Homo sapiens: one gene and its partners. The protein of the gene in region 1 purifies or fractionates together with the protein of each later gene. This does not show direct contact. Each region holds a gene or a part of one and is shown on either strand. Other genes may lie near its edges. The genes, in order: SLA2, MACIR and TARBP1.

Evidence for each region.
Region 2: the proteins of SLA2 (region 1) and MACIR purify together in Homo sapiens (affinity purification with mass spectrometry; one large-scale study listed by BioGRID and IntAct). This does not show direct contact.
Region 3: the proteins of SLA2 (region 1) and TARBP1 purify together in Homo sapiens (affinity purification with mass spectrometry; one large-scale study listed by BioGRID and IntAct). This does not show direct contact.

The regions. Positions count from the first base shown.
Region 1 is NC_000020.11:36,629,113-36,632,764, forward strand, and holds part of SLA2 (src-like-adapter 2), read right to left. Parts: intron 3,587-3,652; coding exon 3,483-3,586; intron 1-3,482. UniProt on the Homo sapiens protein: Adapter protein, which negatively regulates T-cell receptor (TCR) signaling. Inhibits T-cell antigen-receptor induced activation of nuclear factor of activated T-cells.
Region 2 is NC_000005.10:103,275,725-103,279,274, reverse strand, and holds the end of MACIR (macrophage immunometabolism regulator), read right to left. Parts: intron 3,379-3,550; 5' UTR 3,356-3,378; coding exon 2,735-3,355; 3' UTR 615-2,734; downstream 1-614. UniProt on the Homo sapiens protein: Regulates the macrophage function, by enhancing the resolution of inflammation and wound repair functions mediated by M2 macrophages. The regulation of macrophage function is, due at least in part, to its ability to inhibit glycolysis.
Region 3 is NC_000001.11:234,477,037-234,480,788, reverse strand, and holds the start of TARBP1 (tRNA (guanosine(18)-2'-O)-methyltransferase TARBP1), read left to right. Parts: upstream 1-1,609; 5' UTR 1,610-1,685; coding exon 1,686-2,616; intron 2,617-3,752.

The DNA of each region.
Region 1 (3,652 bases):
GAGTGCAGTGGTGCGATCTCGTCTCACTGCAACCTCCACCTCCAGGTTCAAGCAATTCTCTAGCCTTAGCCTCCTGAGTAGCTGGGATTACAGGCACCTGCCACCATGCCCGGCTAATTTTTTTGTATTTTTAGTACAGATGGGGTTTCGCCATGTTGGCCAAGCTGGTCTCAAACTCCTGACCTCAGGTGAGGCCTTATGTGGATCTTATGAGTCTTTAAAGATCTTCATGGATCCCGCTGGGCGCGGTGGCTCATGCCTGTATCCTAGCACTTTGGGAGGCCAAGGTGGGCGGATTATCTGAGGGTCAGGAGTTTGAGACCAGCCTGGCCAACATGGCAAAACCCCGTTTCTACTAAAAATACAAAAAAAAAAAAATAGTCCGGTGCAGTGCCTTACTCCTGTAATCCCAGCACTTTGGGAGGCCGAGGTGGGTGGATCATCTGAGGTCAGGAGTTTGAGATCAGCCTGGCCAACATGATGAAACCCTGTCTCTACTAAAAACACAAAAATTAGTTGGGCATGGTGGCATGTGCCTGTCATCCCAGCTACTCAGGAGGTTGAAGCAGGAGACTCGCTTGAACCCAGGACGTGGAGGTTGCAGTGAACCGAGATCGCACCACTGCACTCCAGCATAGGCAACAGAGTGAGACTCTGTCTCAAAAAAGTATAATAATTATCCCGGTGTGGTAGCACTCGCCTGTAATCCCAGCTACCAGGGAGGCTGAGGCATGACAATCACTTGAACCCAGGAGGCAGAGGCTGCACTGAGCCAAAATGTGCCACTTCACGCCAGCCTGGGCGACACAGTGAGACTCTGTCTCAAAAAAAAAAAAAAAGTCTCCATACGGCTTTCTCTTCTCACTCACAGAGTTTTCTCTTTGCATCTGTGTCTTTTTAGGTAAGGGGCAGAGTGGCCATAAGGGCCAGCCACTATATTCTTGGGGCTGACCCAGGCCAGAGAATGGGCCAGGGGAGGGGAGCTGAGCACTGAGCACTTCCTGTGGCTTCTGAAGCTCCAGGGGACAGTCTGCAGTGGGGCCCTGCTCCACTCCGCAACGCTGCTGTGGTTTCCTGTTTGCAGCTGCTGTGCTGGGCTGGCCTCCCCAGCCCCTCTACCAGCCTATGGATGTATGTGAGGTGGGGGTGCTGATGCTGCCTAGAAAATAGCAGGAGGGGCCTCAGAGAGGTCAACCCAAGAACGCCCAAGGGCAGGAGAGGAGAGACAAAGAAGCTGGAAAGGGTCCTGGGAGGGAGACTGAGGCAGAGAACGAAGGGTCCCGACAGCCTATCACAGTTGGTTCATATCAAGGCGGGCGCCAGGAGGTCTGTCCATTCCTGATACCTCCTTCCCTGGTCTGTTGCTATGCTTGCAGTGCCAACATTACTGCCCCACGTGGGCCTTTCTTGGGGGCCTGGAGTGAGAGGAGGTGTGGCTGGGTTTGAATCCTGGCTCTGCACTTACTAGCTGTGTTTCCCCAGGCAAATTATTTCTCTTCCCTAAGCCTCAGTTTTTCCATCTGTAAAATGAAGACAATGGAAGTACAATCCCCATACATTGTTTTAAGTCACTTAAAGGGCTTAACATAAACGTGGGGGCTGCTGCTCCTTCAACATCCCTCTTTGCCTCTGCCTTAAAGGACTCAGGGGCAGCAGCTCAGAGGGAGGCAGGGTCATCAAAGAGACAATCAACTTTGTGTTTTGATTGCAAAAGACCCTGCACCTGGGGTGGGAGAAGCCCCACATGAATGTGCATGTGGCCCGTTCCTACTCCTCTTTGGTCCAGTTTTTCAGTCTGTACAGTGGAGCGAGGAGGATCCATGAGATGACTTCCAGTGGGTTTCTAGCTCTGACTGGCTACTGACCCAAGAGATCCTGTCACCATTTTAATGTTTTGCCAAGAGATCAGAATCATGTTGTGTCTTGGGGAAGGAGGAATCACCTCCTAGTCAACGCAGAGAAATTCTGTGACTATACTCTATTAAAAATCCTAGTTGCCAATGTGTTGGCTGAGCCTAGATCCCTACTGTGGGCCATTCACATTCACTTTTATTTTTTGAAATGGAGTCTGGCTCTGTTGCCCAGGCTGGAGTGCAGTGGTGCAATCATGGCTCACTGCACCCTGGAACTCCTGGACTTAAGTGATCCTCCCACTTCAGCCTCCGAAGTAGCTCGGACTACAGGGATGCACCACCATGCCTCACTACATTTTAAATTTTTTTGTAGAGAAGTGGTCTCATTATGTTGGCTAGGCTGGTCTCAAATTTCTGGGCACAAGTGATTCTCCCACCTCAGCCTCCCAAAGTGCTGGGATTACAGGTGTGAGCCACAGTGCCCGGCCTGTATTATTTTTAGAAATGCAGATTTTTGCTCTATTGCTGATAGGCTCTCATGGCAGCAACATGGCAGATGACAGCCAGACTGCTAGACACCAAGGCTAGGAACTCCAGCCCTTCACATTTGGCCTTCTGCCCCACCCTCAAGTCATATCACACTTGGCTCTTGGCATTGGAGGGGCAAGCCCTGGCATCACTGTGGATCTCAAATAGAGGTATGTTTCCCAAACTCTGTGCCATGGAACACTGGCTTCCAGTGACCCAGGAGCTCCCTGAGAGCAGGGACCATGGCCACCTCACTCAGCAGAGATGCCTAAGGCCTGACACATACAGTAGGTCCTGTCCTTCCCTGAAGCCTCCCCACATCATAGGTGCTGGAGAAGCATTTGCTGAATGAATGAACATGGAGTGACTCTGACTGGTGCTGCATGATGAAACACTCCTGTGTCAGAAACACTTGGGAAATGCCCAGTTAGGCAAACGCGACGCCTTAAGAAGTCTTGTGTTAACACGGATTGTGAACCTCTCAGAGAAGGATACGATTTTCGGGGTCCCCTAAACTGACCCCCCATCTCCTCTACTTCTAAGCAGGTGGCCCACAGAACACACTCAGAGAGTCCCTGTAATGCATCCTCTCGTTTCCCCCAAAACACACGCCCAGCACTGTGTCTCTGCTGAGTAGCAACCCCACTGCCTTGGGAGAAAACCAAAGCTTCTCAGCTCGGCATCCAAGGCCTCTGTGCTGGAGCTTGCTCACTTCTAACCTCCTATTGTCCCGAGGTGCAGCCCACTGGCCCACCCCAGCACCACTGTGTCTTGTTGCCTGGGATCCTGTGGGAACATCCCTCAGGATCCCAGGTCCACTCCTCCAGGTCCACTCATGGTCTATTCCTCCATGAAGCCTCCCTTGATTGCTCCAAAGTTAGCTGCCTCTCCTCTGCTTTCATGGCCTGTCTCCATCTCCCCCAGCCTGGGCTCCACATGGTTCATATGGGCAGGACACGGAGCTGGGGCTCAGGAAATCTTGGTTGACTGAGAAGTCAGGCAAAGCCTATTTTCTGGGCCGCACCTGCAGCCATATATCTGTGGGCTCCTTTCTGAGACCTCCACGTAGGGAGGGCCTGGGCTGGCACCGAGCTTACTCACCTCTCCTGGTCTGGCTCTCCCGGATGAGGAAGGCCCCTCCAGGGTTCCCAGGTAACAACAGCAGTTCCTCTGCTTTCTCCCTGCTCAGGCCCTCATACAGCCACCTGGCGGAGCGAAAGAGAGGGACAAGGGACAGGGTCAGCCTGGAGGAAGAGGGAAGCCAAGATTTT
Region 2 (3,550 bases), on another chromosome or scaffold:
ATGGGAGCCCTGCACCCAGAGGTGTAAAATGCAACCAAATGGAAGTCAGAAGAGCAAAAGAAGCTCACCTCAGATTGAGGCAAGGAATGAAATTTTACTGCAACTTTATGCATCATCTGAGCTTCAAACAAACGGTACTTTTGCAAAAGAAGAAAAAAATTAAAGTTATATAGTGCTGCAATGTTTAAGGGCAAGAACAGTAAGATAATATCATCAGGTATATTCTGGCCAAGTGTGCCCCATTTAGTGTGGAATATTAAATTGAATAAAAAATGAAAAAGTTAAAAAATAGAAACCATGTCAAAAGGGATTGTTTTTCAACTAAAAGAGATCCAGCCTACCCTTTTTTTAAAAAAATTGGTTCTTACCTACCATAGGCTACAATTCCATGGGGTGCAGAGAAAGTAAGACTGAACTAATAAAGGGGTTCTGCAAACACATTGTGAAAATTACTGGCCTAGAGTTTTGAAACTTTCTTTCTAGAAAACCAAATTTAAAATTATATATCTTTACTAATCAAAAAAGAGTAAGTATGCCATATCTTATACTATTAACCCCCCTATTTTTGCCACAGAGTTTCACCTGTCTTTCAGGAAAAAACAAAACAAAACAAAAAAAGCTACAAATTTTTATTTAGCTATTATTAAGGAACGTAGGCACACGGACAGAACAGGTCTCATAGGTAACCAGTTGTGTTTCCTAATAGGGTGAATACATATCATTGCCATGAATACATCTTTTATCATAAAATGCCAATGAGCATCAAAAGTAAATGGTTTGATTGTTGTTGTCACTGTTTTGTTTAAGAAAAATAGGGCCTTAAAATAAGTGCTTCAGTGGAATTCTTGAACAGTAAGTAGCCTGTTGATAGTGGACCTAGTTTAAAGCACCACACAACAATGTGTGTTTACATCACCCCTTTATTTCATAGTTAGAAATAATACAGTTCCACAGGGTAAATTGTCAATAAATAATGGTGTTTAATCATTAAACATAAAAATCCCACTCTTTGGCATCTGACAGGATTCTATTTCTTGTCAAACTAATGACTGTATAGATATAGCTAATCTTAGTGATCATTCGTCAATACAATATGTTACAAAGGTGCAATTTACTTTAAAATATACAACAGCGAAACATTTCCAGCCCAACGAGAAATCTGATCAACTTAGTAAGATATGGGCCAACTTCCCCAAGGCTCTTTCACGTAGTTTGCCTTAATGAAAGTGTAATAAACGTTGATTAAGAGTTCCTAGGGTTTTCTAATACTTACTTTGCTCTAAATAGAGTTTGCCATTCATTCTGGCTAAAGAAAAATCACAATTGCACCAGGAATGACCCACTCATTAATTAAAAGGTGTTCTTATTTTATAAGCAAGATTGCTAATACCTAAGAAACTCACAGACCCCAAAATAAAAAGCAGTTCTGTGCTGCCAGAAATCCCAATTCAGTAATAAATTGCACCTTTAAGAGTCAAAAATGAGGGAAAAAAGAAATGGAACGTTTACAAAAGGTAAGTTACATACATTTTTTTTTCAAAATATATTCAAGAATAGTTGAGCTGTATTTGTTACTAAACCCAGGGCATTATTTCTTTAGCAACAAATTAAACCAGTGCAATTGACATAAATTGTTAAGTAATCCAGGATTAACCCATTAAAACAGTAGAAGCACGTTAGGCTCCTACACTAATCCTAGAAACTGGAATTTCAGTGAGTGCTTGTGTTACACAGAACTAAAACTGCAATGACCTGATGCCATGCTGAATGGTATCACTTCATACTTAGTTTAATCATTCAATAGTACAAATCATGAGTTCCTCTATTAAACTATTATTCACTTACAGAAAATTCAGATGCAAACAGTATTATGCCTATAATCCACAATTAAAAGAATCCTTTCCCATTTAAAGTTCCAGGTGAATTTTAAGTTAGAAAATAAGCACTAAGGAGAGTTTTTTCAACTTATGAAAACGTCATATTGGAAACTTTCTGGAAAAGTTTCCCCCGCCCACCCATTGTAAAATAAATACTTTGTATCCCAAATTTAATTTTATTAAGACACACTTTAATAACGCTATAAAGAAATATTTTACAGCCATAGAGATCAATAACTTTCCATGCGGAAATAAAAAATTCATTGCTCAATAACATTATTGAGGCAAGTGAAGAAAGATTACTCTCTTGTCAATCTGAAATGTTAATTTTTTCAGTGCAAAACCAGTTATAAAATATTTAAACTCAATATTTAAAAATAAAAAGTGGTCCAATTCAGCAATGTTCAAGTTCTAAATTTCATAAAACAAATCATTACATACATTTTATAGTAAAATACAGAGATTCAAGAAGTACTTGAGTACTGAAGATATAAATTTCTAATGAATCATATCAAGTCAGCAACAACCAAGCAGGTAACATTCCCAATTTGAGTGTCAGAATCATAAAGATGAAATTACTGTACCAAAGCCTTTTTTTCCTAGCTAAAAAGCTATACAAACTAACAGTCAACATTCTGTTTTCTTTGCAGTTGCGTGCTCTAGAATGATATCCCCCCCCCAAGTACCTGTGATTTCATTCCTGTATTCAAATTTGACCCAAACAATTTTTATGTTCCAGGAACACTTAGCTGATATAACCATCTATAGTGTGAAGAGTCATGTACAGAGTACAGCAGTGGGTTTTTTCTAGCCAAGCGTAGGCTGACCTAAATTGGTTTAAGCTCTCTCCAAGTCATTCATGTATTATTCCTAGCAAACACACGGTCCCCTCGGAGGGTTAGGTGTTGAAGCTGGTACTGTAGCACTTCTGTATCAGCTGGCTCCTTGATCATTTTATCTAGATTGAGGTAGTCCAGAGATTTGGAGTGAGCCCTCTTACCTTTAAGAAGACAAAGAGGCAGAGGCCCATGGAGGGCCTTGTAAGGTTCATAAGGTAAAGATTTAGTGCACTTGTCTCCTGAGCTTGGCATCCGCCTTCGCCTCCTGCCATTGACAGCTGGAATCTCGTATGGCTGGTAGTACCTACTTCTGGTTTTATACAAACGAGAGGAACGGGCAAGTCCTGCATCTAGCTGTTTGGAGCGTAAGGATGGCATGGCTTCTGCTTTGCTCTCTTCACCTCCTGTGCACTTCTGAGCTAACTTCAGGAGTTCCTCGCCAGTCGTGAAGCCAACCAAATAGTTAGAGTCCATGTGTAGGATCTGGTAGCCTGACACGGTCCTCCGCATCGGGGAGCAGGGTGTGCTGGAGCAGCGGGGCTTCTCTGCCTCCGCCTTTCCCGGGGAGTTGGCCTCAGCCCCAGGGAAGGGCAAGGTGGTCAGGGTACTTCTAGACTCTCCATTAATATCGACTTCCATTTTAAGCACCAGTCTGCACAATCCTAAAAGTAAACAGACTTAGATTAGAAGAATATAATGCACAGAGACTTGGGCCAGGCCAGGTCCTTTTAGAAGGCTCAGGGAGCATGAAGTAACACTTGCCTGAAAGACAGTCAATGTACCACTGACATGTAACTATGTCTACTAAACGTTTCAGAGCGGGCATGAAATGAC
Region 3 (3,752 bases), on another chromosome or scaffold:
CTTGGTCTTTGCCGTTTAGTGTTTTCGAGCTTTTACATGTTAGCCATTCTCATCAGTATGAAGTGGTACCTCATTGTGGGTTTAATTTGCATTTCTCTGATGACTAATGATGTTGAACACTTTTCCAAGTGCTTATCATTTGTGTATCTTCGTTTGTTAAGTGCTCAAGACATTTACCCATTTATATTTGTTAGATATATGTTGACAGAAACAATAGTTTTCTGCACATTTTATGTTGAAGGTAATTGATATTTACTGACATGTTAAAAGGGCTTAAAATAGAAACATTTATGCATTTTGTCAATGAAAAACGGAATGACTGAAATATGAAAAAAGTCTTGCCTGTGTAATGTCAGATAACCTTAAAGTCAGATAACTTTATATAAAAATAACTGTAAATTTAAATAACTAATTTTTGTCTTATCCATTATGTTATTATATGTCAAGCTCTTTGAAGTTGGGACCCTGTTTTCTCTATTGACTAAGAGGCAGATCTTTGTGTTTAGTAGCGAAGAAAACCCTATGTCACTGATCTAGTTTGTCTCAAATTGAGCCAGGAACCAAATCCACACCATGCATGCCGAGGTGAGGTTTTCTGTTTCTCTATTTAGCAATGGATGCTGTCAGAAATACAGAAAAGACAGACACAGGGACTATTTTTGAGTTTGCACATGGGAGCACATGCATTGTGCAGGAGGCTCTGCATCCTGGAGTCATCTTGGGCACTTGGCTGTGAGGGCTGGCGTGGGCATCTTGGTTTTAGCTGAATCCTAGCACATTGCTATAGGTACCTCTAAGGCAGGAGAATAGGGCCTGGAGGCAGGGAATCCAAAAACTCCCTAGAACCAAATCAGATAGAAACACTTCAGCTATGACAGGAAATATCCTCTTCATTTACATAGGGAGTACACCAAGTAAATAACTTTGTAACTTCATTTTATCCTCTTCAGTTACATAGTGTGTACACCAAGTAACCAATTGAAACCTCTATAGGTATTTAAACCCCAGAAAATTCTGTAACCAGCCCCCCTTGAGCGGCTTGCTTGGGTCTGCCCCCACCCTGTGGAGTGTACTTTTGCAATAAATCTCTGCTTTTGTGGCTTCATTCTGTCTTTGCTTTGTTTGTGCGCTTTGTCCAATTCTTGGACCTGGACACCCTCCACCGGTAACACTTCTCACTCCTGGCCTTACGTCTAAATCATTCTTGTGTTTTCATGACTTATTTTTAATGCAGATGTCCAGAACCAATTTCAGACCTACTGTGTCAGTCTCTTTGTGGATGGTGCCCATCATGCAACGTTTGGAAAATAATCTAAAGTGATTCTGCTGTGCACCTTCTGTGAACTGGTTTATGCTCACAGGCACGCCTGATTTAGGGTCCTGGGCAGACCAACCTCCAATCAGGAATCGATGAAGCTGGTGTAGATACTACATTAACTTTTAACGAAGGCCTCGTTTCTCCTAAAAATAAGAGACCAGGTGGGTTCTATCTAGGCAGGGTTGGTGGCAGGAACCCAAGGGAAGCTGAGCTGCACCAAGCCGGGCTGGGATCCCCCTCTCTGCGGCCGCGCGCCCGGCTCCGTCGGCGCACGCGCACGTAGGGGCCGGCCGGTCCTGTGCGCACGCATCGCACACGCCGGCGCCTTCCTTTGGGAGCCCGGGCCGGTGGCGCGGGCGCTCGGCAAATGGAGTGGGTGCTCGCGGAAGCGCTGCTCTCGCAGAGCCGGGACCCCCGGGCCCTGCTTGGGGCGCTGTGCCAAGGGGAGGCATCCGCGGAGCGCGTGGAGACGCTGCGCTTCCTTCTGCAGCGGCTCGAGGACGAGGAGGCGCGCGGCAGCGGGGGCGCAGGCGCGCTCCCGGAGGCGGCGCGCGAGGTGGCTGCAGGGTACCTCGTGCCACTGCTGCGGAGCCTGCGCGGACGCCCCGCGGGCGGCCCGGACCCCAGTCTGCAGCCTCGCCACCGCCGGCGCGTGCTGAGGGCGGCGGGCGCGGCCCTGCGCTCGTGCGTCCGCCTGGCCGGGCGTCCGCAGCTGGCGGCCGCGCTGGCTGAGGAGGCGCTGCGCGATCTGCTCGCCGGGTGGCGCGCGCCTGGCGCCGAGGCTGCCGTGGAAGTGCTAGCAGCCGTCGGGCCATGTTTGCGGCCCCGCGAGGACGGGCCGCTACTGGAGCGCGTGGCGGGGACCGCCGTCGCCCTGGCGCTGGGCGGGGGCGGGGACGGGGATGAGGCCGGGCCTGCCGAGGACGCGGCGGCGCTGGTGGCCGGGCGACTGCTGCCAGTGCTGGTCCAATGTGGCGGGGCGGCGCTGCGGGCCGTGTGGGGCGGGCTGGCCGCGCCTGGGGCGTCCCTGGGGTCCGGCCGCGTAGAGGAGAAGCTGCTGGTCCTGAGCGCCCTGGCCGAGAAGCTGTTGCCCGAGCCCGGCGGCGACCGCGCCCGCGGCGCGCGCGAGGCGGGCCCGGACGCCCGGCGCTGCTGGCGCTTCTGGAGGACGGTGCAGGCGGGGCTGGGCCAGGCGGACGCCCTGACGCGCAAGCGAGCGCGCTACCTGCTGCAGAGGGCGGTGGAGGTGTCGGCGGAGCTGGGGGCCGACTGCACCTGCGGGCCCCAGGAAGGAAACGGTACCTGCCTCTTTGCCCCCCAGCCTAGTGCTACCTACTTGGCTGCCCCAGAGGGGAGTCTTCCTGCTTCTAAAAACTAGCTTATCGGGGTCGTCACTCCGATCCATGCAGAATTTGGTTATTCCGCGTTGCTCCCCTAAAGCCTGAAAACCTTTGGAACCCCTTCTCGAGGGTGTTCTTTGAAGTCACAAATCACTGCGGTTGGGAACGTTCTAACCCAGAGCCGGTGGAATACAGCACCCCTGGAATAGTTTAGGAAGATAATGGAGCCCGTGCAAGATTTTACAGACCCAAATCTGCACTATATCATGGTAGATTCAACCCAATAGAAACGGTTGATATCTATCAAGTTGAAAGAAAAATTATTTGTTATTTATCTGTACTGACCAGTGAATTAGTGAATTGAGTGTTGAGTGTTAGAATTAAGCGTCATAGAGGCCATCACACTCTTCTGAAATTTCCCCTGGTAATTAGGAACAGGATTTACTAATATTTGTTAAACATGTTTCTTAAGTCGACCTTTTGAGTGTATTTTTGCCATTGATTTAATAGAATGAATCAGATTTTATTTTTTAACTGTTTGAGCTTTGCTCCCTACTATGTGCAAGAGTAATGAAACAGCAAGGCCTCCCTTCAAGTTGTTACGTTACTGTTGATTGGTTTGACTTCACTCATGTTAAATTTGGGTTTAAACTGTCAAGTACAAAGTAGATTGACTCAAAATTGTCTCAATAGAATATTTCTACTTTTTCAACGGTAGCTGACCATTTATTACAGGTAAAGGATTTTTGTTTGGCTGAAGTTATGAGGTTATATTTTCAAGTAATTTTAAAACATTAGAGAGTAAATATTTGAACAGTCCACAGATAGGTGTGATCATCCCTGAGAGTTTTCACTGGAAAACATTTTTTAAATCATCAAAAATTAAAACATTCATTTATTTACATGAGTCTGTTATTTTGCAGTTTTGTTTGTTTGTTTGTTTGTTTTATGGAGTTTCGGTCTTGTTGCCCAGGCTGGAATGCAATGGCACAATCTCCGCTCACCGCAACCTGCACTTCCCGGGTTCAAGCGGTTCTCCTGCCTCAGCCTCCAGAGTAGCTGGGATTACAGGCATGCGCCACCATGCCCCACTA